7 linked regions of the Homo sapiens genome follow. The protein of the gene in region 3 purifies or fractionates together with the protein of the main gene of each other region. This does not show direct contact. Each region holds a gene or a part of one and is shown on either strand. Other genes may lie near its edges. The genes, in order: LANCL1, PHF20L1, SETD1A, CDC42BPB, KAT14, NEK2 and TBC1D10B.

Region 1 (4,278 bases), on a different chromosome or scaffold from region 3:
CAAAATGAATAGGACTAATGATCCGTCAGAAATTCAAAGGCTTAGTATTAATTACTTCTCAACAGCTGGCTGTATTTATAGTACTGCTTGGCATAAGTTCCTGAGTAAGGAAATTGCAGATTTAGAAGTGTCCCTAAATAATTTACCCTCCCATCCCCAGGGTAGTAGCTACAGGAAAAAAAAAAAAATCTAGTTCACAGCTTTCGTGCTGAAGCCAGGACTGATTCCTATTACAACAGGAATTTTATTTGGTCCTCACAGCATGTTTGTTTGTTTGTTTGTTTGTTTGTTTGTTTGTTTTTAATAGTTATCAACATTTCAAGACCAAGAAATTCTTAGGGTAAACTGACAGGCAGTGCCAGACTTCCTGAACTTCTTGTACGGAATGACATCTATTCCTGGTCTTCAGAGCAGTACTCTCCTTGGAATGTTCTGCAGTAATGGAAATGTTGTTATTTCCATCGCGACAGCCACTAGCCACATGTGGCTATTGAACATTCTAAATGTGGCTAGCATGACTAAGATTGAATTTTAAATTGTGTTTACTTTTAATTAACTTATATTACTGTAGACATTTATGGTTAGAGGGTATCATACTGGACACTGCACTTCTAGATGAACCAGGCAGGTTGCAGGAGTAGTAATTCAAAGTACTATACATCTGGATGTGTAGATTTTCTTCTATGTTTTCTTCTAGTTGTTTTACAGTTTCTGGTCTTAAGTCTAAGTCTTTAGTCCATTTTGAGTTGACTTTTGTATATAGTATAAAATGAGGTTCAAATTTCATTCTTCTGCTTGTGGATATACATAATAGTCATACTTACGAATATGACATTTAGTAACACCATTTATTAAATATAAAATAATTCTAAACTCTAGATCAGTTTAGAGCAGATTTTTACAATTAAGTTCAATCAAAATTTAAATCTCATTCAAGTTTTTTCTGGTCTAGAAGAGAAGATGAAGGGAAGGAAGCATGTCTCCACTCTATTTTTTGCTTAGCAGACAGCACAAAAGGAAATGTAATGTGATATTCAAATTTAAGCCCAAGAATACACTTGGCTAAAACCGGCTTTTGTCACATTTTAAAGTAGATGCATATTCTTTGATAAAAAGATGAAAGAAAATATTAAAAAGATGAAACTGCCTACATCATTCTTTGTCAAAACTCGAACAATTTTGGCTGTTATGTTAGAAGTCAGTAGAAATGTTTTTTCTCATTAAGTGTCCTTCAGAGAATAGAATCATATTTGGGAATGAATTTATTAATGGATACAACTGTACTCTTTCCTCCCAAACCTGATTCTCCAACAGAGGGGTTTGCCATCTCAGTGGATGGCACCATTTTCCATTTAGCTGTTGAAGTTAGTCATCGGGAGGCATTTTGACATCTTCTTCTCCGCCATCCCCCACCAGGTTCTGCTGATTTTACTTTCTAGACAGGTATCTTTCCAGTTCATTCTGACAAGATCTGTATTGCACCACCCACCCTGTGTCTCGCTCCTACTCCTGAAGCATCCTCCTAACTGTTCCTCCTGCATCCACTGTTTCATACACTCCCTTGCAAACCTTACAGTGCAGTTATGGTGAACTTTTAACAAAACAAATCTAAGTATATTCTTCCCACGCTTAAAATGGGTGCATTTCAAATGAAACTCCAAATCCTAACTGGCCTGCTAGACTCTGTGTAATCTAGCTTCTGCCTGCCTCTCTAGCTTTGAGAAGAGCTGTCTTCCTTAGGATTAGGCCTACCAGGACATGGCAATACATCTAAAATAACAGTGGCTTTAACAGAACCGAAGTTTATTTTTCTCTTATGTAAGTAGGCAATCCATGGACTGGTGTGGCAGCTTCACAGTCCTCCAGGATTAGGTGGCTTTGATCTTTGAAACTTTACCACCCTCAGCACAGAGCTTCCAACTCATGGTCCTTAGACGATGACTGCTCTAGCTGCACCATCACATCTGTATTCCAGCCAGGAAGAAAGTAGAAAAGGAAATAAATCGCCAGTGCCTTCCCTTCAAGAACATTTTCCAAAGTTGCCTCCACTACTCCCACTGCATCCTGTTGTTCAGAACTTCGCCACATAGCCATACCCGGCTGTGAAGAAAATTGTTCTTAGCAGCCTGTGCCCAGCTAAAATCCAGGGCATTATTGTTGAGAGAAAGGCAAGATACATTTGGAAAACCACTTACTCTCCATCACAAGAGCTAACTCCTCATTTTCTAGAGTAGAATATGAGTCAGAAATATCTGACATAGAAAACTTAACAGATAGCACATAAGCATATTATTAGAAATAGACAGATACTAGAGAAAATGGCTGAAACTGATGAAAATGGTTGCCTCTGGAAGGCAGGAACACAGTAAACCAGAGGACTGGTGTTTTGCATATTAAATCTTTCAGTACTGTATAATTTTTTCCATGAAGAACATATATATTTTGATAAACATTGCATTTGAAGGCATTTCTAGGCATTGACTGAAGCCAGGCCCACAAGTATGTATTAGGACTGGGTGAATTTTCCCTGCAAAGCCCGTGAAGTTGTGTTTTTATTTCCCACCTTGCCAACCATCCCTGAGTCTTTGGTATTGATTCAAAGGTGGTGGTGTATGCATGGTTATTGTCAACAGTTGAGGACCATAAAGATCAGGTTTAAGACATTTGGCCACAAGCAGTCCTCCCTTTTTTCTGTCATTAGGACACATTCTATTATTTTCTATTATATAAAATACTGATGAGGTATTAAATGTCTGTGACATAATACATTTTGTCTTATTTTCCTGACCTGGGCTGATTTATAATAAGCATGTGCAGGAAACTTTTTCTAATTGGCAGCAGCACTCACCACTTAAAGTCCTTTTCCACCATGGATGTTCTGTGACAGGGAATGTAGACACAGTAAACTATCATCTGCAGAAGATTGCTTATCAAAATCCACAGACCCAGAGGCCCAAATGAGAGGTAGGGGAGAACTGGAACATGAGATTGTGGAATCCCAGAAACTAGAAAGATAATTCTCTGCCTATCAAAAAGAAAGTTTTAATCCAAATGTACTCTTGTGAGACTTGAGAAATGATTACCTGTTTTTCATGAGAAATACACCAAATCTTACAATTGCAAGCCTTAATAGGTTTTGTTTGTTAAATAGTTAAGCCAAGAGGAATTGTTGCTAATGAGAGACAAAGATCTGAAAGAAAAACAATCACTGGGCTTGTGTTTAATCACTTTTTATTTTCTCAGATCTCCATCATGTCATTATCTGGCTTTGGTGCTTACATAACTTAACTAGGAGAGTTCAGGCAGCAATGGGAATAGGAGGGCAAAATGAAAGGTTAACAATTTAAATGGATCACCTGCAGATGCGTGATATGGATGGAGATGAAGCCTATTAAGGACCTAATTTTAGAAGAAGCTCTTGACATCAATCATTTGTGAAAAGGGTTTTTTTTTTTTTCTTACCTACACACAAGGTTTTGTACACTTGTCTACAAACCTTAAGCATTGATGCATCTGATCATCAGCTTGTGGGATTACTAACACCAAGCCACTTTGAAAGAGCAGTCAAGGTTATTAACTTTGGCAGGAAATGAAAATTTGGCCTTAATATACATGTGAAATTGAATTGTCTGTAGCACAAAGCTTTGGAGATTACCCATGCAAAATGAGAAAACTATCTAAATTTAAAATTGTCCTCAGTACAGGGAAAGTAATTTTGCAGACAGCATTTTTACTGCATTGAAATCCGTGAAGATTGGCTCTATTAATTTAAATTTAAACAGAGGTTCTGTGTCTTCTAAAAATCGCAAATGAGATGGAAAATGTACTTCAAGGGAAAAAATGGGTTTCTGGATATGCTGCAGGCAGGCAGGCAGGCTTCCTACTCCACATCTTTGAGTCTGCCCTGAGACCAGTTAGCTTCAGAGGGAAGGCTCTTTCCACTGTGACAGGCATTTGAAATAAGGACATGCAGACAATGCCTCTATTACATATTTCAGGCTTCAAGAGTAGGGTAAGAAACTGATCAAGTAGAGCCCAAGGCAAAAGTCATTGGTGGCTTTTACATTACATTTACCAAAGTAGGTGGGCCCTCGACAGAAAAAAATCTAGGGGTTGAATATTTTTTCTCAGCTATCAAATAACTTTCTTATAATCCCTGCCTGGAAGGATACTGGGGCAGGGGATTTGGTTACATTAACTACCTTTTCACAAAAAAAAAAAAAAAAACACACACACACACAAAACAAACTTTTACGTAAAGAGAAATTGAAATTTTCA
Region 2 (4,278 bases), on a different chromosome or scaffold from region 3:
AGTAAGTTTTAAAAACAATGTTAATTTTTCCTTGTTTAGAAGTTAAGCACCTTATCAAGATATTAAGTTTTAAAATCTTGTTTTATAACTTTGTAACTTGAGAGTAATGGATGCTGTAGTGATGTCTTTCACATATGTGAAGATGAACAATAAAATTGTTTATTTACAAGTAATGGCTCTAATTACTTTTCTGGCAACACCTTTTATAATAAGGTTAGGAATACTATCCATTTATGAAGTACCTTTTCAAATAATTAATCTGCACTTATACACATTTATAATGAGTAAATTCAATAATAGAAATGATGACAACTGAATGAATGGGACACTTGACACCAGGCCTTTTATGTGGTATGTCCAACATGCTGTCTATAGAGCATTGAAGGTGCCCTACTTAATACCAAATATGCACTTTTCTTCCCCAGCAAAATTTGACTTGTATCTCAGTGGGAACAGAATTATTTATTTATTTAGTCCCCAGAAAATGATCGTTCATATTCCAGAGAACTGCAGACAGCAGACCTGATAGTTATTCTCCACAAGATATGGAAGTAAAAAGATTTCTTGGGGACAAGCATGTTGTTTATAGTGCTAGCAGTCTGATTCTTTATAAAGGCCTATGGTAGAATAGATTTTCAAAAAATGCATATTATATATTTTGCTCTCAGATAAGTATATCAGAAAGAGATAGAAGTATTGCAGAACCATAGATTGCAAATTCATCCAATGTAGTTATTTTCTCTTGTTTTGAAAAATGGACACATTCACACATATTTTAACATATGTAGGAAATTTTACAGCCAAATGAATAAAAATGATCTTTTATGAAAGAACTGACAAAGTTCTAATTTTTTTTTAAAAGTATCAGTTGGCAGGAAGAAGGTAAAAACTCTCATCTAAGAATGCGACGTATTTTGTTTTTAAATCCAATGTTTTTAACTTACACTTTATCTCTTTGGTTTTTTTTTTGTTGTTGTTGCTTGTTTTGTATTGTTTTTTAGTCTTTTAACTCTATATTGCTGGTGGCTCTGATTTCATGATGCATTGTGCTTATGAAACTCTAGCTTTCAGCACTAAAATGAGTTAAAGATAATGTTTTGTTAATTTGGTCATTGTTTTTCCTGTTCAGATCTTTCTTTAAAGGGAATCTGTCTACTTAGACCTTTACATTCAACTTAAAAGAAAAGATTTTATAAGAAAACATCTAAAATCAAAAGCTTAAATGTATTCCTCTAATCCTTTAAAACATGAAAATGCTGTTTATTTTTCGAATTATTGTCATTGGCAATTATGGTTCCTAAAGGGGTATATTTCTATTTAATACTGAAAATATTTGTCCAGTAAGATAACATTTTATGTTCCGAAAATATTATGAATAATATATTTTAAAAAATGAATTTAGACTGAAAGTTGACAGCATCCCTTTAAAGACAGCCTATTCAACTTTTAGTTAATAATTTGTGGGGTTCTTTTTGGTTTTTCATTTGTAATAGAAATGTTATATGTTGCTTAACAATGTTTCTGGATACTAAAGTTGCTTAACAGTCAAAATAGAATACAAGAACAAAAATGAAGAAGCCAAAATAAAAATATCAATTTTTTATTATTTATTCAGGCGATTTCACCTAAACCTCAAAGTCAGAAAAAAAATGAAGCTGACATTAGCAGTTCTGCCAACACTCAGAAACCTGCACTGTTATCCTCAACTTTGTCTTCAGGGAAGGCTCGCAGCAAGAAATGCAAACATGAATCTGGAGATTCTTCTGGGTGTATAAAACCCCCTAAATCACCACTTTCCCCAGAATTAATACAAGTCGAGGATTTGACGCTTGTATCTCAGCTTTCTTCTTCAGTGATAAATAAAACTAGTGAGCACAGATTTTTAAAAAATAGTTATTTATCCTATAAGATACATTAAAAACAGTTTGATTGTAGTTATATTGTATTTTTATGAAGTTGCTTTTTAAAAACTCAAGTGGATATGATAGGGAAGGCTTGAAACTATTTCAGGGGCAAAAACCATAGACATTTCTTACTGATTTATTGCTTAGAGACTACTGCTGGTTGAGAATCCTTTCCATTTAATAACACAGATTCCACTGTAGTTTGACTCTCCTCAACTCATAATCCAAGCATACTGAGAGGCCTGATTCATTACAAAAAAAAAAAGTTATAAAAAGACCCAGGATAGCTATTTTTACTTAAGACTATTCCTGTAGATTTTTTGTCCCCACTTGTCTATAACTTTCCTCTGCAATACATTTTATTCATTCTTATTATAATATTTATAGTCTAGACTTCAGTTTAATCTTTTTAATGAAAAAAAAATGCCCCCATGATTGTATTTTTAAAGATTTTACTGTTTCAGTACTTCTAATTTTTCAAGAGTTAACGCAGTCTTTTTCGAAAACACCTTTCACATGGGTATATCTATCTATCTCCCTATATATCTGTATATATAAATAATACAAGATTTGTGTTGACCCTGAGTTTCTCATATTAGTTTAGTATCCTAAGTTGGAGACATGAATAACAGTTATTTGAAAAGTCAGTTGGTAAATGATGGTTTTTTTTGCTCTTTATGCAAAAAATGAAATACATGATCAGTTGAGTGAATATGACATGTTTCCTTATTCCATATTGTGTCTTCCAGAATAATCAAAGATGTTGGCATTCAGAAGACTTTTATCAAACTTATTAACCTATTTTCCTTCAGTTGCCATATTTTCTACTGAATCATTTTTTCATTTTGATCAGGTTTTGCTTTTTCTTTTTAATAGGTGGAAAGAATGGGAACATAATTCAATTGTTTTCCTAATAAGCTTCATTTCATTATGGCATTTATCATGAAATAGTGTCAGTAGTAGTCACTGGAATGTCATATGACATTAATAAACATTTTATTTTGGAAATTATATCTTGGTATTATAACCACAATATTATAGCAATTAAATTTTATTCTTTCATATTTTTAAGTTATCAGCATGTCTTTTTCGTTTTGATTGTAAAATTACTCTTAAATACCCAAACATCAATGTCTTTAGACTGTTCTTATTTCCTCTTTCTAAATTAACATGAATATATTGGCATATATAATCTTGCCTATTCTAGTCAAATGTGTTTGTATGCCATGTAGAAAGAAGATATCTAAAAGTGTGAGAGACATTTCCAAATATTTATATTATATTGCTAGAAGATGCCTAAATTACTTACCAAGTTGTTAAAAAACACAAGTACACAATGTCATAATCTTAAATATCCTCATTATTTGCTCACAATAAGTATACAAAGTTGTTTTTGTTCATTTTTTTTTTTTAATGAATCAGGCCCAGACATGTTTATAAAACTCCATTTGGGGGGGATGATGATGGGATAAAATTATTTACATTAGTGTAAAGTAAATCACTAACTCTATAATGTTGTATCATCTTTGTCCCTGCCTTTTTTTCCCTTAGAGTTTCTAGATTTGCAATGTAGCAAAAGGAATACATATATATATATTTTTCCTTATCTTTTGCTGTAAAGAGACTATTTTCCCGAAGGAAAAATGGCAATTTACACAACGATCTGCAATTAGAGAAATTAACTGTAGTCTGTCACTTGGGGGAGCTACTTGAAATTAATGTTCCATTTTATTTTCTTTTAGTTCTAGTAGAGTGTAGATTTTACAATTTTTGATTGACTCATTTTGAATGAGGGCACAATTTTTGCCTTTGATTACCTTTGGAACATGCCATTCCTTGTGGATATCTTATAACAACATCAGAGGGAAGAATATAAATCATTTTTTCCCATTTATCTCCTTAAATATTGTAAGATGCTCCTGGTATGTATCTGCTTCGTGAACATTGAAGATCTTTTTCTAGGTCCTCCACAGCCTGTGAATCCCCCTAGACCTTTCAAGCATAGTGAGCGGAGAAGAAGATCTCAGCGTTTAGCCACCTTACCCATGCCTGATGATTCTGTAGAAAAGGTTTCTTCTCCCTCTCCAGCCACTGATGGGAAAGTATTCTCCATCAGTTCTCAAAATCAGCAAGAATCTTCAGTACCAGAGGGTAATGTATATTGATTTCCTATAGAACCAAACATAAAAGAAGATAAAGAAAAAACTAAGAGATAAAGATTATTAAAATATTAAGATATTTCTGCTCTTATATCTTCTGGAGTTATAAGCACTTCACTTATTCTACAAATATTTATTGAGTGCCTTCTTTGTGCCAGGCACTGTTTAAATTATGTAACACTTTAATTCACAGTGATAGTAACTGAGCCATTTTA
Region 3 (4,278 bases):
AGGTTGCATTTGAGGTGCCCCTTGGGCTTCCCAGTAGAAACAGTGGCAGTTGGATCCATGGATCTGGGGTCTGGAAAGAACGGTAGGCTGGATATGAGGTCGGTGCTTAGGTCTTGAAAGTGTAGCAGTGAATTCACCTATAGACCCAGGTAGGCGAGTGGGGGGAGAGAAAGGGCAGAGCCTTCCCATCCTGTGAGAGCAGTGGGCAAGCAGGGCCCGAGGAGGCTGAGAGCGGTGACCAGAGGCGAGAAGGGAAGCAGGTAGTGGAGAGGCTCTGCAAAGCAGGGAGTGGCCTTGTATCACCAGGCCACCAGCAAGGCTGAGATAGGAAGTATCTGTTGCATTTGACAGTTAGGAGGTCATTGGTGACCTTATCAATTTCAGTTGAGTGGTTCAGACTGAAGCCAAGTTACAGGGTGTTAAGGAATGAGGGGAGGGCAGTTTTCTGGAAGGGTGGACCACTCTTGCTGAGATAGAAAGGAGAGTTGGGGCCGGGCGCAGTGGCTCACACCTGTAATCCCAGCACTTTGGGAGGCTGAGGTGGGCAGATCACTTGACGTCAGGAGTTCGAGACCAGTCTAGCCAACATGGTGAAACCCCATCTTAACTAAAAATACAAAAATTAGGCTGGGTGCGGTGGCTCACGCCTGTAATCCCAGCACTTGGGAGGGCTGAGGCGGGCAGATCACGAGGTCAAGAGATCAAGACCATCCTGGCCAGCACCAACATGGTGAAACCCCATCTCTACTAAAAATACAAAAACTAGCTGGGCATAGTGGCACATGCCTGTAATCCCAGCTACTCGGGAGGCTGAGGCAGGAGTAATCGCTTGAACCGGGGAAGCAGAAGTAGCCATGAGCCGAGATCGTGCCACTGCACTCCAGCCTGGTGACAGAGCGAGACTGTCTCCAAAAAAAAAAAAAAATTAGCCATGCATGCTGGCAGGCGCCTGTAATCCCAGCTGCTCAGGAGCCTGAGGCAGGAGAATCACCTGAACCTGGGAGGTGGAGGTTGCGGTGAGCCGAAATTGTACCACTGCACTCCAGCCTGGGCGACAGAGCGAGACTTCGTCTCAAAAAAAAGAATTGGGGGTTGTGATATCAGCTCCCATGTGTCAAGTACCTATGTGTGCCAGGCTCTAGGCATAGCATGTTGACAATTCATTTTCTCATTGAATCCCCACAACCTCTCCCTTTTTTTTTTTTTTTTTTTTGAGATGGAGTCTCATTGTGTTACCCAGCCGGGAGTGCAGTGGTGCAATCTCGGCTCACTGCAACCTCCGCTTCCCGGGTTCATGTGATTCTCCTGCCTCAGCTTCCCAAGCAGCTGGGATTACAGGTGCACACTGCCACGCCTGGCTAATTTTCGTATTTTTAGTTGAGACAGGGTCTCACCATGTTGCCCAGGCTGGTCTCAAACCCCTGACCTCAAGTTATCAGCCCACTTTGGCCTCCCAAAGTACTGGGATTACAGGTGTGAGCCACTGCGCTTGCCCCACAACCTCCCTGTGATTCCCATTTTATAGATGAGGGCTTCAAGGCTTAGTGAGATGCAGGAACAAACTAAGGTTACCAGCCAGAGCTGGAGGGAGAGCAAGAAGAGAGGGCAGGGTTGAGGGAGGGGTTAGCTTTTCCAAGTAGATGAGGTTTGGGCATGTTCCACTGAAGGGAACGGGCCAGGTAGATGTGCCGGGAGAGAGGAATGCTTGCTGGCATGGCCTTTTTGGGGAGGTGGAGGAGTAGCTTCCAGATCTGATGCAGTTATACCCTTCGGTGGGGAGGCAGGGAGATGGGGGTGTTGTGCCTGAGTCCTCTTTTGACCCTGTTGCTGTAGGACTGTGAGAGGAAGAGTGGAGTAAGAACCTTGGAAAGTGGAGAAAAGTTGCTCCAGTCCAGGCGCGGTGGCTCACACATGTAATCCCAGCACTTTGGGAGGCCGAGGCAGGAGGATCTCTTGAGCCCAGAAGTTCGAGACCAGTCTGGCTAACAACAACAACAAAAAAAGCCAGGCATAGTGGCACATGCCTGTGGTCCCAGCTTCTGGGGAGGCTGAGTCGGGAGGATTGCTTGAGCCTAGGAGGTTGAGGAGGCTGCAGTAAACAGTGATTGTGCCGCTGCACTGTATCCTGGAGACAGAGCAAGCCTCTCGCCTGGGCCTCCCCATGCTGGAAGGCCTTGCCAGAGCTGGGGCCTGGGAGTGAGGGGAGAAGAGGCTGCTGGCTGGCTCCACAGGGTAAAGGTGTGGTGGAATGATGAGGACCTGGGGCTGTGCTGGGACAGGAGAGGGCAAAGTACGGGCCCTGGGGTCTGGGCAGGGTGGAGGAGGAAGTTGGGAAGAGGGTGATGTGCTAGAGGGAAACTGAAGGATGGGAAGTTGAAGGTGCAGTGGGGCAGACTGAATGGACAGTGGGGAATGTTGGAGAGGATGGGGAATCTCCAAGGCGGAGCCATTCTGGGATTGACAAGGCCAGGTGTGTGGCTGCTTGAGGGGAGCTGAGGGTGATTGAAGGGGATCACTGGAGATGCAAGAATCCAGGTAAACAGGCGTGATTGCCAAGTCCCCTGGGGAGGTGGCAGAGGTGGAAGAGGAGAGGAAGATGCAGGCAGCCCCTTGGTGTCTGGATAGTGAGAGGGCACGACAAGGGAGTCTGAGTTACCGAGGACAGAGGAGCCGTGGCTCAGAGCAAGGGGTGCTTAGTGAAGGCTCACTGTGTTTCTTCTCTTTTTTTTTTGAGATGGAGTCTCGCTTTGTCACCAGGCTGGAATGCAGTGGTGCCATCTCGACTTACTGCATCCTCAGCCTCCCAGGTTCAAGTGATTCTCCTGCCTCAGCCTCCCGAGTAGGTGGGACTAAGGCACGCGCCATCACGCCCGCTAATTTTTGTATTTTTAGTAGAGACGGGATTTCACCATGTTGGTCAGGATGGTCTCGATCTCTTGACCTCATGGTCCACCCGCCTCGGCCTCCCAAAGTGCTGGGATTACAGGCGTGAGCCCCCTCGCCCGGCCAGCTCACCGAGTTTCTAATAACCAGAACCAGTTTCAGTCACCACCGTCTTAGTGATTGCCGCCTGGGGATGTTAGTGATGGCCCTGGGGAGGGGCAGGTTATGCAGTAGGAACTGGCTTCTGGGGCCTCGCCCCATGGACCTGAGCGTGGCAGTAGAGCAGTTCTCAGAGGAAGGTGGTGGGAGTCATATTGACTGGGCAGGTGCCCCCAAAAGTTGTCTCCTAAATGAGAGGGATGGGCAGGTTCCCTTTGGGACAGTCGCAGAGGGAAGTGTGTGTGCAGCAGCTGTGCTGGTGGAGGAGTGTGTTCTTCGAGCGAGGCTTCCCGAGGACATGCATGCTGAAGCGTGAGGTGGTCTGTAGGGGGCGCTGCCCCAGCGTGGTGGGGAGGAAGGTGAGAGGAGGCCTGCATGCATCTGGGTCCTCACTGGCTTCCTGGAGTGGGTTGCTGCCACAGGCTGAGACCCCAGCGGGTGTCTAGAGCCTAAGGTGCAGCCAAGAGCCTGGCTCAGGGCGCCAGGGTTGGGAGTGCGGTGGACTCAGGTGAATCGCTGCCTCCTAGGGCCGGGCCTGGTGCCGGCGGCCCTGTTGGCGCTGAGCGGGGAAGCCAGTTGTGAAGCCAGTGAGTCCGTGGGCTGCAGTTCAGAGCATGAGCTCAACCCACATGGCCTGGGAGCAGAGCTTGTTCTGTCATCTGGTAACTGACCACATCTCTGTGCCTCAGTTTTCCTGTCTGTAAGATAGGACCCTCTGCTGGGTACAGTGGCTCACGCCTGTAACCCCAGCACTTTGGGAGGCCGAGGCGGGCAGATCACGAGGTCAAGAGATCGAGACCATCCTGGCCAACATGGTGAAACCCTGCTTCTACTAAAAATACAAAACTTAGCTGGGTGTGGTGGTGCATGCCTGTAGTCCCAGCTACTCGGGAGGCTGAGGCAGGAGAATCGCTTGAACCCGGGAGGCGGAGGTTGCAGTAAGCCGAGATTGCGCCACTGCACTCCCACCTGGCGACAGGGCGAGACCCCATCTCAAAAAAAAAAAAAAAAAAAGATAGGAACCTCTTTGGGCTGTTGTGAGGATTACATGAGTTACTCTACGTAAGAGGTGTGATTGGTGTTAGGCACAAAATCCATTGGGCTGGCTCTGAGAGCCTCATGCAGGCTTTCCCAGGGATGGCGGCCAAGGGAGGATGCACTCCCCGTCCTGAGGGTACGCTGGGGAGGCAGCACCCCCAGCTCGGAGCCAGTGTGTTCCCTCCCCAGCCACCCGCA
Region 4 (4,278 bases), on a different chromosome or scaffold from region 3:
ACAAGGGGTGCTGAGGCAGCGGGACTGGCCCCTTCCTGCACCTCACCGCAGGCCCACGGCCCAGCCCCACTGCCCACACATGTCTGCTGTGGTGTGGCCATCGGGATGGAGCCGGGACACACTGCAGTAAGCCCGTGGGTGGAGCTGGCCGTGCACCTCACAGGCCTGGTGTCTAGCCACGACGCCCTGGGTATGATGCCGTCTCAGCAAGGCTGACAATGGGGCAGACAAAGGGGTTTAGCTTCAGGTAACTGAGGGAGAATGTCATTCCCCAACTCTTGGCCTGTTACCCCCATATGCGCGGCTCGTCTTCCTCCCGGCCTCCTCTTGATCTGTGGATTTGATGGTGCAGGCCACTCTGATAGATCAGAGGGATTCTGAGGTTTAAGGTTTCCTTTCTGTTTTAAAAGACAGGGTCTCACTCTGTCTCCCAGGCTAGAGTGTAGTGGTGTGATCATGGCTCACTGCAGCCTCCATCTTCTGGGCTCAAGCAATCCTCCTGTCTCAGCCTCCCAAGTAGCTGGGACTACAGGCATGTGGCACCGTGCCTGGCTAGTTTGTTTGTTTGAGACGGAGTCCTGCTCTGTTGCCCAGGCTAGAGTGCAGTGGCGCGATCTTGGATCACTACAACCTCTGCGTCCCGGGTTCAAGCAATCCTCCTGTCTCAGCCTCCTGAGTAGCTGGGACTACAGGCATGTGGCACCGTGCCTGGCTAGTTTGTTTGTTTGTTTAAGACGGAGTCTCGCTCTGTTGTCCAGGCTAGAGTGCAGTGGTGCGATCTCAGCTCACTGCAACCTCTGTGTCCTGGGTTCAAGCGATTCTCCTGCCTCAGCCTCCTGAGTAGCTGGGACTACAGGCGCCCGCCACCACGCCCGGCTAATTTTTTTTTGTATTTTTAGTAGAGATGGGGTTTCACCCTATTAGCCAGGATGGTCTCGATCTCCTAACCTCGTGATCCGCCCTGCCTTGGGCTCCCAAAGTGCTGGGATTACAGGTGTGAGCCATATTTTGTTATTTAGTAGAGATGAGGCTGGTATTGAACTTCTGAGCTCAAGTGAGCCTCCTGCCTCAGTCTCGCACAGTGCTGGGATTACAGGTGTGAGCCACCGCTCTCCACCCGGTTTAAGGTTTTAAAAGCAATCGGACAGCGGGCCAGTCGGGAAGTGTCCACTGGTCCTACCTGTTCCCCAGTGCCACCATTCATAGAGAAAGTCATGCCAACTAGGCGAATTCAGTGACCCAACTGTTTGAAAAACAGCCCCTACCACTTTCAGAAAATACTTGTCCTTAGAGGGACTGTAACTTAAGACACCAGAGGTGAATTATTTTCTGGCCACCAAAACCCCTCAAGCTTGTCTTTACTACTGTGTAAGTTTCTGTATTATCACGAGGAAGGCCTTTTAAATGAGAGATGAATGCCACGCCCCGTTCTCGGTTCGCCGAGCCCTTCTGCCCAGGGGCCTATGCCCGCCGACGGGGTCCTCTGCTGAGGCCTCTGGAAGAACCGGCCCCATGTGCTCAGGGAGAGAGGTTGCTGAGCCCGCCTACTGCTGGTCTGAGACGTGAGATCTGAACCATGCTCTCTGCTGCGGGCTGGCATGGGGCCCACCTCTCCCGATGCTCTGTGACTACTCAACTAAGGGACTGGAAGACAAACCAAAGCAAAATCGAACACATGCTGACTGTCGGTGGGAAAAGCAGCAACAGGGATATGCAACAGAAAACATATACATACTACAGGCGACAGGAGCCGCAGGCCACATGAGCTCCTGCGCGCGTGCCCTCCGGCCTTGCGGGTCCACGTACAGTCCCATGTGGCTGAAGCAAAGCAGGTACTCCTCGCTTTCGAGCTCCACAGCACAAAGGGCATCAAAAGACTGTTGTGAGAGGAACGCAAGCGAGGGGTCATTGGGATTTACCAGGTTTAGAGGCTGCCCGTCCCCCTGGATGCTCAGCAGGCAGAACCCAGAAGGGTAGCCCACACAGAGCCTGTCCCTGAGCACCGCCAGGCACTGCACGCTGCCGGGAGCCACAATCTCATTGAACTTTCTGTGGAATGGCTTCGTTCTCTGGATCTCATAGCAAAGGATCAGCCGTTTCACGGCCACAAACAGGCAGGTGCCAGAGTTCCTCTTGAGTGTGGCCGTGGCCATGAGCTGGCAGCCTTTGGTTTCCGGAAGCTTGATGTCAAAGCTGCCTTCCGCTCCATCAAGGGACGACCACGGATAGAGGTGCACATGGTGGTTCCGGCCACAGAGGAGGATTACGATCTTCTCCCTGGGAGCAAGCTCGATCTGGTGTACCTTCTTACAGTCAGCGGCACGGACGATCACTGTGGCAAGGAGGACAAGAGCGTGAGGCCGACGGGACAGCCAGCAGCTCCCAGGGGCTGACGGCCTTGGCTAAAGACTTGCCTGGAACACTCTGGGGCCCTCCCCTGGGCTCCCTTCCTGTGTGCACAGCCTGAGCCCGGCCCTGAGCCCGTCTCTGCCCACAGAGCCAGTGGCTTGAACGCCCCCCGGAGAAGCTGCCCCACATCCACAGCGCGCTCCTGGGGCAGCCTCGGGGGCTGGTCCAAAGGCTCCTCTGCCTCTGCTGCTGTGCACACCCCTCAGTGCACCAGGGCTCCAGCTGGGCAGCGCTTCCACCTGGGTCCTCGCGCAGCAAGGCCCTGGGGTGATCTGGGCCTCCTTCCAGCTCATCCCCGAACCAGAGGGCCCTCACGCTGCACATGAGGGACAAAGAGCTGTCCCCAACCCACTGGGACCCTGAGACAAATCCTCTGAAGACGCTGCCCTCACAGGGCCCCCAGTGAAGACACTGCCCTCACACTCACACGGCCCCCAGTGAAGACGCCGCCCTCACACGGCCCCCAGGCTAACCCAAGCCCCTCGCTTGCTCAGATCTCCCCACAGAGCTGCCAGGGTACGGCCTCGCCCAGCGGCTGCCCCGCCCTTCTCGCTCCACGGCCATCACATGCAGAGATGCTGGGTCTGTCGGGAAAGGACTATGGCTCACATGAAATGTCGCTGGATTCCTTGAGGGATGCTCCCCTGGGCCCCTGCCCCCTGCCCATGGCCAGTTCCAGTCTCCTGACGTTTCTGCTCCTAGACCCAGGGCTGTGGAGCGGGTGCATGCCAGGATACCTTTGCCCTTCCTCGCTGGGAAGACTGAAGTGTCAAAATTGGAAGCAAAGAAACTAAAGCTTCTCAAGTGAAGCCTCAGCACATGTGGGAAAGCTGCAGCTGTTCCTCCTCCCAGGGGGCTTTCCTTGACCCCCCACCCACTCCCGCTCAGTGCTCCCCTTGAAGAACTCGATGGATGTGATACGCAACTTAGCACCGCGTCGCCATGCACTCGATGCCGGTCTTCACGGCACGCTGGCCCCTCCGGCGCCTTCATCAAGCGCATTTGTCTTAACCCTTAGGAGCTACTGACCCTGTGCTGTCTGCAGAGGCCAGGCTGGGCCTGTGACATCCCAGGCTGGAAACGCCCTGCTCACTCACCATCTCGGGTGACCTCTATGACATAGAGCCCTTCTTCTAGGCCGACTGCAATCCTGTCTGCATCTGTGGAGGGGTAAGTAACATACACAAAGTCAGTACAGCCGACCGTGAACAATATGGGTTTGAATGCGTGGGTGGGCTCATTCACAGATACTTTTCAACCATATGTGGATGAGAATACAGCATTCCAGGGATGTGACACTTCAGTATCGGGGGTGACTTTCTCTCTACACGAACTCCACAGGGCCGGCTGACTGTGGGATTGAGTCTGCAAGGATTTGGGTGTGTGTGGGGCTCCTGGAGCTGACCCTCAGGCTTAGCCGGGGCCAACTGTACTGTCCGCACAGGTCATCTGCTTTTTTTTTGAGACGGAGTCTCGGTCTGTCGCCCAGGCTGGAGTGCAGTGGTGTGATCTCGGCTCACTGTAAGCTCTGCCTCCTGGGTTCATGCTGTTCTCCCGCCTCAGTCTCCCAAGTAGCTGGGACTACAGGTGCCCGCCACCACGCCCAGCTATATTTTATTTTTATTTTTATTTTTTTTTTTAGCAGAGACAGGGTTTCACCGTGTTAGCCAGGATGGTCTCAACCTCCTGACCTTGTGATCCGCCCGCCTTGGCCTCCCAGAGTGCTGGGATTACAGGCGTGAGCCACCGCACCCGGCCTCGTCTGCTTCTTAACATGCATGGAGAAACTGTCTACAAACCCAAATGGACCTGTGACCTTCATCTGATTTTCAGATGGGCACTGCAGCGCCGCCGGAAGTGCTGTTGCTT
Region 5 (3,615 bases), on a different chromosome or scaffold from region 3:
GTAAAGAAAAGGAAAGAAATAGATAAGACAGTGCTGCTACAGTTCCTCTCACAAATGAAATGGAGCCTCAACTGTTTCCCCAGATGACTGAACAGCTTCCAGATTGGCTTAATGTGGGAGCTCAACACATTCTCTCTCACAAAGGAATTCGAGCTGGCTGCAAGTACAGCTTCTAGAACAGATGTTCTTAACTTGTGGTCGACAGATCCCTGATGCAAAATTTTAAATGTGCATGACAGTTTTCTAGAGAGTATTCAGCTTTCTTTGTATTCTCAAAGTGATCCATGTCCCAAAAAGTTAAGAACCACTGATCTTAATTAAAGAGGGTTTGAAAGCAAACTGACTAGATTGACGCTCTGGCCATGGGTTGTGCAAAGAAAGCTTTTTATTTGAGAACACCTAGATACTTTTGGAAATGTTCTTGTTGGATCACAAACAACCTAATTGACAGTCTATCGCCAACATCCACAAACACAGCAAACAGTCCAGTCCTGCAGACCACACAGGGTACATCTAGAGGGTTCTACTTGCATCACCCACACTTCCACTCCTGTGAAACAACTGTCTTGGGCATGAGAAGGGCCAGGATAGGCCAGGTGAATGGCAGGCTGCCCAACAACCCCAATCCCAAACCAACCTCCCAGGCCATGGGCCCAAGTCCCTGCAGGAAGATGCTAATAGGTACAACAGGTAGAACATGTAGACACAAACATCTAGTTTATTTTTTCTGACTGTAACCAAAGTCAGCAAAAGAAACAACAAAACTTCAGTGCCCTAGAAATCCTCCTGGATTCAATGACAACACATCAATGGCCGGGCACAGGGTTGGATTCCTTTTATGAAATCACCTTATAATCTCTCATCATCCCAGGACAGTGCCTTTTGGGACTGCATGAATCTTTAATAGCTACACCACATTTTCTCATCCTTTAAGTTATGACAGACAGGTTATCTCTCTCCAAGAGCATCAGGTTAGATGCTCTTTCACTCTTACAAACTGTCAGGTGGAGGGAGAATCACGACATCATTCATAAATAACTGTGGAGTCTGGGATGCTGGCTGAAGGCATCTCCAGGAAGGACTGGAGGGCGATTTTGCTAAAGGGCTGCTCACTGCTCATTTCACTGCATGCCGCTTTTCTCACTTTGGTTGGGAGTTTGAAGGACCATGTAATCACAGAGATTAGAGCTCCCTGTGAAATCAATCACTGCCTTTAGATCTCCACAAAGACCTGTTCTCCAATAGCACATGCGTTTCTCTGTGAGCTGTATTCGCATCAGCGCCGGAGCCTCAGAAAGAATGCGTGTTTACACTCTGTACTCTCCAATGGGTAATATTTATCATAGAAATCTAATACATATTCTTCAGTCTTGAATCCAAACTTCTGGTACAGTAGCATAGCGGGGTTGCTTGCTGAGACGTGAAGGGTTACGTCCTTGCCCATGCAGGTCTGCCAAAAGAGTGGAAAAATACAAGATAAAAATGGAAAGGCCTGAGGGAAAATGAGTAGGTAAAGAAACGCTTTTAAGTGTAGGCAGTTAGTTATGGAAACCGGAGAAATCAGAGACTGAGGCTGAGACATTGCAACACCTAGCAACAGCTGGAAACAGAATGACATTTTGCTGCTGATCAAAACATTCACAAGACCAAGGAAACTGATAGTATTCTGGGTGTTTTTTATTTTTCTTTGAAGCAAAGGGTCAATGGGGATATTGTTATTGTCAGCTTTATTATTTACAACTCAATTACCTTTAAATATGTCAAACATTTCAATACCTAACACTATGATAACCTTGAATAAATACAAAACAAAATAAGTTTTGCTTTTTAAAACTAGATGTTATCTTGTACCTCCCCAAAACCTGTAAAAATTCCTTTACTAGGCCTGCTAAATTACATGCACAAACATGAAATATTAAGAATGTAATTATAAAACCTGAGGCCCTTGTATAGACCTTCTGAATCCCAAAGTCCACCTTCTGTCTCTCTAAAACTGACAGAATTAGCTTCTTAGAACTGAGATTTCTACATTCAGCTTTGACCTAATCTTAGGGGAAAAGAGTAACAATCATTCTATCAACACAAGGCAAGTCCTTAGATTCTTTAATCAGCTACACAGAGTAAGGTGTCCCAAAAGTCATATCATTTAAGAACTTACTTTTTAATAAAGAAGGCACTGAAATACTGAAGTTGATAGAGTCCTTGAGATTTATAACCCATGGTTCTCTCAGGCCTCTAAGAACTCCTCTGTTGACAGTCATCTGATAGCTACCTGCTTTCTCTGCTTAACTTCCATGTGTATCCATAGGCATTTTTAGGACAAGAGAGCACTTACCAGTATGCCAGGGACAAGAGCACTTTGTGAGTTTTTAAAGCAAATTTTGTGGGGTCATATTGGTGTTTGCTAGATTGCAAATATACGTGATCTCACCGTGGCCATCATTGAGTGCCAGCGACTGTGCGCCACCTATGTTTGGGCCCTCAGGGGTATGGTCTGGCTGGAGGGGAAGGTGCCCACCTGCAAAGATGAACCACTCCTCCAGTGGCCTCGCAAACACTCAGCAGGGACTGACTCTGTACCAGCCCTCATGTTGGGCACCAAGGACACACACACACAAGGACAGAGTACTATTCGTGCCCTGTCTTCAGGCCCTTACCAGTGACAGATACGGCAGCAAATCCTCTAAGTGCTCTCCTAGGTTAAAAAGACGCATACTGAGAGATCAACTCTTGGTTGGGATGGGGCAGAGAAAGGGAGTGTTGTAGAAATAACTGAGAAGCTCTCAAGAGAAAACCACCACCCAAAGTAGCACATATTAATTACTCAGTGAGTGATTTACATAATCACTGCCTAAGGAGAGAAGGAAAGCAATTTCTAGGAAAATGGTTCCAAGGTTCCTGCCAACATTTGGGAATTATTAAGCAAGTTTCATTAAAAATTGGAGAAACAACTTTTATCATCTTCATCTCCTCTTTAAAAGGAATCTTGCCTGCATAAACATATAATCCTCCATACCAAATGGTTTCTAAGTAAAAGTTGACTAAAAAAAATTCTAGGGGAAAAAAATCCTTGCATGTTTTTTGATGGTGATATATGGTGTATTTTCTTCAAAGGTGATACAAATATATTAAAGGATGAATTATAATTCAATACTAGAATCAAATCTTAGAAGGTTCATATCAGCCTTATACAGTGATAGTAAAATTACAAACTATCAGCAAAAATAAAATATGTAGCTAGGCACAGTGGCTCATGCCCATAATCCCAGCACTCGGGAGGCTGAGGTGGAAGGATTGCTTGAACCAAGGAGTTCAAGCACAGACCAGGCAACACAGTGAGACCCTGTCCCTACAAAAAATCAGCCGGGCATGGCAGTGTGCACCTGTGGTCCTGGCTACCCAGAAGGCTGAGGCGGGAAAATCACTCGAGCCCAGGAGGTTGAGGCTGCAGTGAGCTATGATTGTGCAACTCCAGTCTGGGTGACAGAATGAGACCCTGTCTCAAAAAATATATACATATTCTTATTGATACAGTTGTGCTAAAATGTTTACAAATATTTAAAAAAATAAAAATAATAGTCCTACCCTCACTTCTCTGAGTTGCGAAGGTGATGA
Region 6 (4,278 bases), on a different chromosome or scaffold from region 3:
GACAGATTCCTAGTCTAAGGTTTGCGCCGTTTGTCATCTCTCACTGGGTTCAATTTTTTGAGCATTCATGCAAATTAAAGCATATTCAGTTCAAGCTTTTATGGAATGACTATGATGCATTAAACTCAAGGATTACAAAAATGAAATGGATTTTGTCCTTGCCCTCAAGAGTTGTTTCCCAATGTGTAGGTCCTAGTTATCTGCATCAGACTCACTTGGAGTGTTTGTTTAAAATGCAGAGTTCTGGGTCCCAAACCCAAACCCAAATCCATCGAGTGAATTTCGATCTCTGGGTGGGTTCTTGAACTCTGTTTTTTTTTTTTTTTAATATTTTACTTTTTATTTTAGACTTTGCATTTAAGAGGCTCTGTAAATGATTCTTGTGTATGCAGAATCAGAGCTCAGGAAGTTTGCTCACTTCAGATAGCATGTTTTTACAATGTTAACTTTTTGTACATTTTATTTTTTTGTTGCCTATCCCTGAAATATCTTGCTGAGTCCACTCACCAATTACCTCTATTGCTGGATATTTTGTTTCCAACATGTTTCACCATTCTTAGAAGTACTGCTCTGCATATCTTTGTATGAATTATTCTTTCTTCCTTTTTGGTTATTTCCTTGGAGTGTAGCTCATAAAATGAAATTGCTGGGGTAAATGTTTATGGCTGTTATTAGATATTGTCTGATGGCTTTTAAAAAGTTTAAGTCAATTGTGATAGCACTAATGTGTTAGTATATAACATCTGAACAGATAAAGATGAAGAAATATTTGTTAGTATTTTAGTAGTTCACCTTTCTAGGATTTTCCAAATATTTATAAATTATGTTAACAGATCTTACTATAGTATAAAACTTTGTAAATTAATGATTTTGGTTTTGACTAAAAATAGCCAGAACAGTACCATTTTCTCACTGTATCAAATTCCAAATAGAATGTTTTTAACATAAAGGACAATTATCCAGAAGTGGTTCTTGGGAAATTTGAAACCTATTCTTTTGTTCCTTTTCCCTCCTGCCCTTGTAATTAGAGTGGTTCAGCTTTCCTAAGGCACTGATTGTCAAAAAGTGGCATCAGACTCACCAGTTGGACTTTAAAACACTAACCAGCCACTAGAGATTGCTTCTATTCCCTCTGTTGAGAATAGGAGCTCTGGTAGGCTGTTGTTACTGTAGATGTGGAAGAAAGGCAAACAATAAAATAGGTAAGGATAATATTAGTTACTACTGTGATTTATGGAGTGGACTAAGACAAAATATAAATGGATAATTCAATTAGCTATTTATGTCTATATCCATTTAAATGTGGACTAGATACATATTTTGACTATTCTTAAATTTCCTCTAGTTCTTTTAAAATGGTGTTTCTTAATTTGCCTTGAGAGTAGAAGTCTCTCATATTCACCTCTGTATTGTCAGTGCCTAGTCTATACTAAGCACTTTCATTTGTGAATGGAAAATGAGTGAATGAATTATGTATGATGGAGTGTATTGGAACAAGATCATTGCCTTTTTTCCATTATAAATTTCAAGATAAAGTATAAGCTAAAAACTTTGAGGTTCTGTTTTTATCTCAGGAGTAATTTAATGTGTTTTTTAAGTTTCAAAACAAAATAAACTCTTAACACCTTCCACTTTCTTACCCTTTTTCCCTGTATAGGAACAAATGAATCGCATGTCCTACAATGAGAAATCAGATATCTGGTCATTGGGCTGCTTGCTGTATGAGTTATGTGCATTAATGTAAGTATGATGAAGACAGATTCCTAGTCTAAGGTTTGTACTGTTTGTCACATTTCACTGGGTTCAGTTTTTTGAGCCTCTGTGCTAACGAAAGTATATTCAAGTCTGAAAGAATTGTACCCTGGGTAAAATTAAGGTAGATAGATGAACAGGCTAAAAGAAACTATTCACAAATTAAAACTATAAGCCATGAGGCTGGGTCTTGACTGTTCAAGGGTCTTGGCTGGTTAGGTGCTTTCTTATTAGATTGACACTTAGCTCAAGGGAGAGCACATAGGTCAGGCAGGTAAGGTAAAGCTACTGTAAGGATGTGGAAGAAATGAAACAAGACTCGGGTAGAGGTCTGGGGATCTGTAGAGCAGGGAAGAGCTCCAATTCTTTTCCTTTGTTCTTCTTTTCATTTTCTTTCCCTTTGAAACTATTCTGTAGAGCAGTGATTCTCAACTAGGGATAAGGGAAGCAAATTTGCCTCTTATGGGGCATTTGATGATGTTTGGATAAATTTTTAGTTATCACAGCTGGGGAGTGCTTCTGGCATCTAGAGGGTAGAGGGCAGGGAGGCTACAAAATACCTATAATGCACAGGACAGCCCCCCACAACAAAGAATTATATGACCTCAAATGTCAATAGTGCCAAGGTTGGGAAACTTACTTATAAGAAGAAAATCCCAGAAGTAGAAACTTAAATACAAACTGGAGCTTAAGCTGTGCTTTTGATTTAGTTCCTATTGTATATTTTCATTTTTACAATTTGAAAATGTCTTCGTCGTCTTCTTCTTCTTTTTTAACCCTAGGCCTCCATTTACAGCTTTTAGCCAGAAAGAACTCGCTGGGAAAATCAGAGAAGGCAAATTCAGGCGAATTCCATACCGTTACTCTGATGAATTGAATGAAATTATTACGAGGATGTTAAACTTAAAGGTAAAGATGATAAGATGATATATTGTCTGTTTCTAGCTGTCAGTTAAGTGTCAGAGCATACATTCTCTCTTGTAGATCAATGGAGACTGAAGAAACGTTAAATATACTTTCTTAGCTAAATTTACTGTGTTAACACAAGTGAAAACATATGTAAATTTGGCAAATTGCACATCCTTGCTGGCCCACCTTCTGCGCTTTCTTTATTTCTCCTCCCACTCTGTCATGCTAACAGATGGTCGGTAGCAAGGAAAGATTGCAAAAAGAATTCAAATTCTCGTTCCCCTTGTCCTTGCCTACCTCACAGTGGCAGGTAGTGAGGGAAGGGGCCAGAAATAAGAGTTTATTACTCTGCCTCTAGCTCTAATTGAGAGATTAAAGACCAGAAGAAGGGGAGGGGTGATGGAGGGCGGACGGAGGACAGCTAAAAACAGAGGGAAAATCAATAAAGAGATTATGTGGAAAAACTCTGGCTATAGAATGGGGAAGGAGATGTTCTGGGGACCAGGCTGACATAAGAGAAGAAGGAAAATGCCGTAGGATCACAGAGAAGGATACAGATGAAGTGACAGGATTGAGAGTCAGTGAGAGAGTATCTTGCTAAATGTAGTTTAGAAATGCAAGGGCAGTACTTCCCCTAAAACAGACCCTAGCAATGCTACCAAGCCCCAGCACAAGATGTGCCAATCTTCAGGGATTGAACCTTCTTAGAAAGGTGAAAAGGGGAAAAGGGAAAAAAGGTAAGTTAACATCTGCATTACCTTGTGGACCCAGAACCTCATGAGTTAAAACCACCAGTGAACTTATTTTTCCAAGTTTTTAAGACCTAGCCATAAAGGAGTCCTTTCTTTTGTCTTGGAAACACATTTTTGTCCTTTTATTTTAACTGCTGTCTTAGGAGGACTATTCTGTTATGCAATCTGACTATAATACTGAGTATTTTTTCCCCAGGATTACCATCGACCTTCTGTTGAAGAAATTCTTGAGAACCCTTTAATAGCAGATTTGGTTGCAGACGAGCAAAGAAGAAATCTTGAGAGAAGAGGGCGACAATTAGGAGAGCCAGAAAAATCGCAGGATTCCAGCCCTGTATTGAGTGAGCTGAAACTGAAGGAAATTCAGTTACAGGAGCGAGAGCGAGCTCTCAAAGCAAGAGAAGAAAGATTGGAGCGTAAGTCTGAATGGGGGTCAAAGCAAAGGAGAACTACCAAGTGGGTTATTTTGATGTGTCTGAATATCTCTTTGAGCAGAATATTTTATACATACAGATCTTATTAGAAGCTTTTGAAAAATACTTGAGAAACCAAAATATGTATTTTAGACTTTTTAATAATCAGGCTTGCTGGCACCTTCATGTTGGACATCTTTCTCTGAGATCAGTTGCTAGTTATATATTATTGGGCCTTAACTGTGATGGCCCTAATACGATAGCCTTGTATTTTACTCTAGAGTTACTTTTTTCTTTTTCGTCTCTACTGTGAATACCCTAATGTTTTCCCACTGTAAAGGAAGGTCTTAAAATTGCTGCTTTCCATAATAAAAAACCATGACTTTTGTCTTTTGAAATGGCCACTCCAACAGAATTCCAGGTCTAAAACCCTACAGTATGTAGATGAGATA
Region 7 (4,278 bases), 610 kb from region 3:
CAAGTCATTTGTAACCCCATCCCCACTCACATTCTCTATTTCCCTCTTGCTTTAAACTCCTCTTTAGGCCCAGGCACAGTGGCTCACGCCTGTAATCCCAGCACTTAAGGAGGCTAAGGCAGGCGGATCGCTTGAGCCCAGGAGTTCAAGACCAGCCGGGGCAACATGATGAAAACCCATCTCTATCAAAAAACAAATAAAAGTAAAAATAAAAATAACCTCCTCCTTAATGCTTACCATCATTTCACATACAATATACTTTCCTTTCCCTGATTTATTGTTTGTCCCCACTAAAATATAAACACCATGAGAGGAGTTTTTGGTTTTTTGTTCACTGCAATCATTTGTGACTAGACAGTGCCTGGTAGATAGCAGATGCTCAATAAATATTTGCTAAAGGATGAATTATTGATTTAAAAAATTGTCCGGCTGACCGTGTTGGCTCACGCCTATAACGCTAGCACTTTGGGAGGCCAAGGCAGGTGAATCACCTAAGGTCAGGAGTTCGAGACCAGCCTGGCTAACATGGTGAAACCCCCGTCTCTACTAAAAATACAAAAATTAGCCGGGTGTGGTGGCGCGCACCTGTAATGCCAGCTACTTGGGAGACTGAGGCAGGAGAATCACCTGAATCCAGGAGGCAGAGGTTGCAGTGAGCCAAGATCGTGCCACTGTACTCCTGCCTCGGCAACAAGAGCAAAACTCCATCTCAAAAAAAAAAAAAAAGAAAAGAAAGAACAAAAAGTCCATCTGGCCAGGCGCAGTGGCTCACACCTGTAATCCCAGCATTTTGGGAGGTCAAGGCGGGCAGATCACTTGAGGTTGGGAGTTCAAGACCAGTCTGGCCAACACAGTGAAACCCCGTCTCTGCTAAAAACACAAAAATGAGCTGGGCACGATGGTGTGCACCTATAATCCCAGCTACTCAGGAGGCTGAGGCATGAGAATTGCTTGTACCTGGGAGGCAGAGGTTGCAGTGGGCTGAGATCACACCACTGCACTCCAGCCTGGGCAACAAAGGGAGACTCCATCTCAAAAAACAAAACAAAAAAAAGTCCATCAGAGAACTCCCTAAGATGATCATCTTGCATACTACTAGAGAAGAGTATATACTGACATCTGGAGGAAGCTTGGTCTATAGAACAAAATTCCAAATGCTTTGGCATAGCATTTAAGGGTCCCTGGTGATCTTTTCCATAACCCCCAGGCAGGAAAACCCTGCCCCACTGCTGTAGCTCCCACCCCTCCAAAACCCAGCCCAAATGCAAGCTCTTCAAGGAGCCCATGACGTGCCCCCACACACAACCTGAGTCAAGTCTCCTTCCCAGGACAGTTCCTTTGACATGGCTTGACACTTAGTCCATTACAGATAGCTCTTCTACAAGTCCTGAAGGGCAAAAACCACTTTCGACTCAGTCTTGTATCCACCTAGCTAAAAGGTGGATCCTCCAGCCAATGTTTGCTGACTGACCCCCATGGTCCGGCCACCTTACCCATGCCCCCCTCGAGCAGCAAACATCTCGTGGAAAGGGAACTGGCGGTGCAGGTCCTTCTCAATCACATCCAGCCACTTGGGGTCCCCAGGAGCCCGTTCCAGCTCCTGCAGTGGGACAGTGGGGATTACCTCAGCATCTGGGGGAACTGATACCCCTTGCACAGACAGGGCCACATGTCCCCACACCTTGGAGCTGCACGCACCTCAAACTTTCCTGGGTTCTGCTCCAGAAGTTCCTTGCTATTAGACAGGTACTGCCAGGCTTTGGCTCTGAGAGAGGAGGGGATCCCCTTCCGGCAGCGCAGCTTCACCTAAGGCAAAGTGGCAGGAGGGGGACAGCTTCAAGGGCTGGCACAGCCTCCAACCTTTCCCCAGCAGTCCACAAACTCCCTGGATACTCCTCCGACATCCCATAGGCTTGATTCCACTGGACCTGGCCTGGACTTCTATTTTTAAAGCCATTCCCCCGCCAGGGCCCATCTATCCCCAGTGTGGTCCAGAGGGCAGATATTATCGGCTTCCTGGGCTTCCCTGGAGCACATGCTACCCCTCCCAACTTGTGCATTGCCCTGCCCACCATTCAGCCCTCAAACCTTCTGGAATCGCCGTGACAGCCACTTATCCCAGTTACTGAACATGTCCAGCCATTTGAGCTCCCGCTGCCGAGCCACGTCCACGGGAATGGAGCTCTCTCTGCAGGGTCGGGGGAGCACGGAAGGGGTCAGTAGCAATAGTGTAAAACCTGCATTGCAGGGGGAACTGAGGCAAGCCACCTCCCCAAGCTCAAACGAGAAACTGGATAGTCTGTGAGCTGCCAAACATCAGGATGTCTGGCCACTTGGGCATCCCAAGGCACACTGAAAGGGCTTCCTTCCCTGATGGATCTCTATTCAGAGGTCATATTTAAATCTCACTTCTGACACATCCAAATCTGGGGAGAGAGTATGGAGTATTTTAAAGCCACATTTTGCATTAGATCTGGATCCACGTCCTAGCTTTACCATTTATTCATTGTGTGACCTTGGGCAAATCACTTAATTTTGCTAAGCCCAATTTCCTCATCTGTAAGGTGGAGAAAGTAACAATATCTACCCGAAGGGGTTTATACGAAATAACACACAGCGAAGTGCCCATTAAGTAATACCTTACTATCCATAAAATAAAATACCCTAGAGGGCCAGGCATGGTAGCTCATGCCTGTAATCCCAGCACTTTGGGAAGCAGAGGCAAGAGGATCACTTGAGGCCAGGAGTTCAAGGCCAGCCTGGGCAACATAACGAGATTCTGTCTCTACAAAAAATAAAAATAAAATAATAAAATAGGCCGGGCATGGTGGCTCCCACCTGTAATCCCAGCACTTTGGGAGGCCGAGGCAGGCGGATGACTTGAGGTCAGGAGTTTGAGACCAGCCTGGACAACATGGTAAAACCCTGTCTCTACTATAAATACAAAAATTAGCCAGGCATGGTGGCACGTGCTTGAAATCCCAGCTATTCGCGAAGCTGAGGCATGAGAATCGCTTGAACCCGGGAGGCGGAGGGTGCAGTGAGTCAAGATTGTGCCACTGCACTCCAGCCCAGATGACAGAGCGAGACTCCATCAAAAAAAAAAATAATAATAATAAAATAAAATACAGAACAAATGTACTTCTGTCTCTTTAGACGCAACCATCTGAGTTTTGTCCTATCAAATGTTTAAGATCCCTTGGGTCACCTGCAATTTACTCTACCTCCTCCTCCCTGAAATCACCCCAGGCAAATAAAGGACTCCCTGCCCTATTTACTCACTGTTCTGTCAGAGGTTCATACTCATGGTGCCCCATCATTCTTCAAACACTTACTTGTAGGAGCCAGTACTAGGAGGTGAGTAGAACGGAAGAAAGCTTGGGTCTTAAGAATCAAACCTACCTAAGTTCAAATTTCAGTTCTGTCTCTGAGACAATAGGGAGCTTTGTCAAGGGATGACCTGAGTCCCTTCCTCAATTATAAAAAGACACCACCGGGCCGGGCATGGTGGCTCATGCCTGTAATCCCAGCACTTTGGGAGGCGGAGGTGTCAGAAGTGAGAAGCGGATCACCTGAGGTCGAGAGTTCAAGACCAGCCTGGCCAACATGGTGAAACCCTGTCTCTACTAAAAATGCAAACTCAGCCGGGTGTGGTGGCACATGTCTTCAATCCGATACTCGGGAGGCTGAGGCAGGAGAATTGCTTGAACCTGGGAGGCGGAGGTTGCAGTGAGCCAAGATCGCACCATTGCACTCCAGCCTGGGCAACAAGAGCAAAACTCCGTCTCAAAAACAAAACAAAACAAAACAAAACAAAAAAAACACCACCACCACCTACATCACAAAGTTATGAGAAGACTATTGAGAAACTGCATATAAACATCTGTTAAATAGAAGGGGCTCGTTAAATGTTAGTTTCCTTTGTTCTAGAAGCTCCTTAAACAGAGAGACCATCTCTCATTAATTTCTATCATAAGTCGGTTACAAACTCTACCAAGGGCTGGGAAGAGTAAGATACCTTCTGGCCCTCAAGAAGGTTACAGCCTAAGAGGAGCGATAACTGTAATACAGCATGGGAAATGCAATGACAAAGATGCACCAAAGACACATCTAATTGGAGTGGGGGCAGTGGGTATCAGGGAAGCTTCCTGGAGGAGGGGACATCTGAGGTAAGCCATGAAGAAATGAGTAGAACTTAGCAGGCAAAGAAAGGGGAGAAGAGCACCCTTGGCAGGTGCACAGCCTGAATATGAAGGGGAAAGGACTACAACTAGTTCA

What was found.
Region 1: the proteins of SETD1A (region 3) and LANCL1 purify together in Homo sapiens (affinity purification with mass spectrometry, with the first as the bait; one large-scale study listed by BioGRID). This does not show direct contact.
Region 2: the proteins of SETD1A (region 3) and PHF20L1 purify together in Homo sapiens (affinity purification with mass spectrometry, with the first as the bait; one large-scale study listed by BioGRID). This does not show direct contact.
Region 4: the proteins of SETD1A (region 3) and CDC42BPB purify together in Homo sapiens (affinity purification with mass spectrometry, with the first as the bait; one large-scale study listed by BioGRID). This does not show direct contact.
Region 5: the proteins of SETD1A (region 3) and KAT14 purify together in Homo sapiens (affinity purification with mass spectrometry, with the first as the bait; one large-scale study listed by BioGRID). This does not show direct contact.
Region 6: the proteins of SETD1A (region 3) and NEK2 purify together in Homo sapiens (affinity purification with mass spectrometry, with the first as the bait; one large-scale study listed by BioGRID). This does not show direct contact.
Region 7: the proteins of SETD1A (region 3) and TBC1D10B purify together in Homo sapiens (affinity purification with mass spectrometry, with the first as the bait; one large-scale study listed by BioGRID). This does not show direct contact.

Annotation. Positions count from the first base shown.
Region 1 is NC_000002.12:210,455,760-210,460,037, reverse strand, and holds part of LANCL1 (glutathione S-transferase LANCL1), read left to right. Parts: intron 1-4,278. UniProt on the Homo sapiens protein: Functions as a glutathione transferase. Catalyzes conjugation of the glutathione (GSH) to artificial substrates 1-chloro-2,4-dinitrobenzene (CDNB) and p-nitrophenyl acetate.
Region 2 is NC_000008.11:132,813,022-132,817,299, forward strand, and holds part of PHF20L1 (PHD finger protein 20-like protein 1), read left to right. Parts: exon of another isoform or gene 1-169; intron 170-1,615; coding exon 1,616-1,868; intron 1,869-3,866; coding exon 3,867-4,055; intron 4,056-4,278.
Region 3 is NC_000016.10:30,974,236-30,978,513, forward strand, and holds part of SETD1A (histone-lysine N-methyltransferase SETD1A), read left to right. Parts: intron 1-4,278. UniProt on the Homo sapiens protein: Histone methyltransferase that catalyzes methyl group transfer from S-adenosyl-L-methionine to the epsilon-amino group of 'Lys-4' of histone H3 (H3K4) via a non-processive mechanism.
Region 4 is NC_000014.9:102,942,156-102,946,433, forward strand, and holds part of CDC42BPB (serine/threonine-protein kinase MRCK beta), read right to left. Parts: intron 3,570-4,278; coding exon 3,507-3,569; intron 2,333-3,506; coding exon 1,736-2,332; intron 1-1,735. UniProt on the Homo sapiens protein: Serine/threonine-protein kinase which is an important downstream effector of CDC42 and plays a role in the regulation of cytoskeleton reorganization and cell migration. Regulates actin cytoskeletal reorganization via phosphorylation of PPP1R12C and MYL9/MLC2.
Region 5 is NC_000020.11:18,185,121-18,188,735, reverse strand, and holds the end of KAT14 (cysteine-rich protein 2-binding protein), read right to left. Parts: intron 1,451-3,615; coding exon 1,277-1,450; 3' UTR 701-1,276; downstream 1-700. UniProt on the Homo sapiens protein: Component of the ATAC complex, a complex with histone acetyltransferase activity on histones H3 and H4. May function as a scaffold for the ATAC complex to promote ATAC complex stability. Has also weak histone acetyltransferase activity toward histone H4.
Region 6 is NC_000001.11:211,668,664-211,672,941, reverse strand, and holds part of NEK2 (serine/threonine-protein kinase Nek2), read left to right. Parts: intron 1-1,657; coding exon 1,658-1,740; intron 1,741-2,534; coding exon 2,535-2,661; intron 2,662-3,609; coding exon 3,610-3,829; intron 3,830-4,278. UniProt on the Homo sapiens protein: Protein kinase which is involved in the control of centrosome separation and bipolar spindle formation in mitotic cells and chromatin condensation in meiotic cells.
Region 7 is NC_000016.10:30,363,407-30,367,684, forward strand, and holds part of TBC1D10B (TBC1 domain family member 10B), read right to left. Parts: intron 2,189-4,278; coding exon 2,089-2,188; intron 1,807-2,088; coding exon 1,699-1,806; intron 1,601-1,698; coding exon 1,494-1,600; intron 1-1,493. UniProt on the Homo sapiens protein: Acts as a GTPase-activating protein for RAB3A, RAB22A, RAB27A, and RAB35. Does not act on RAB2A and RAB6A.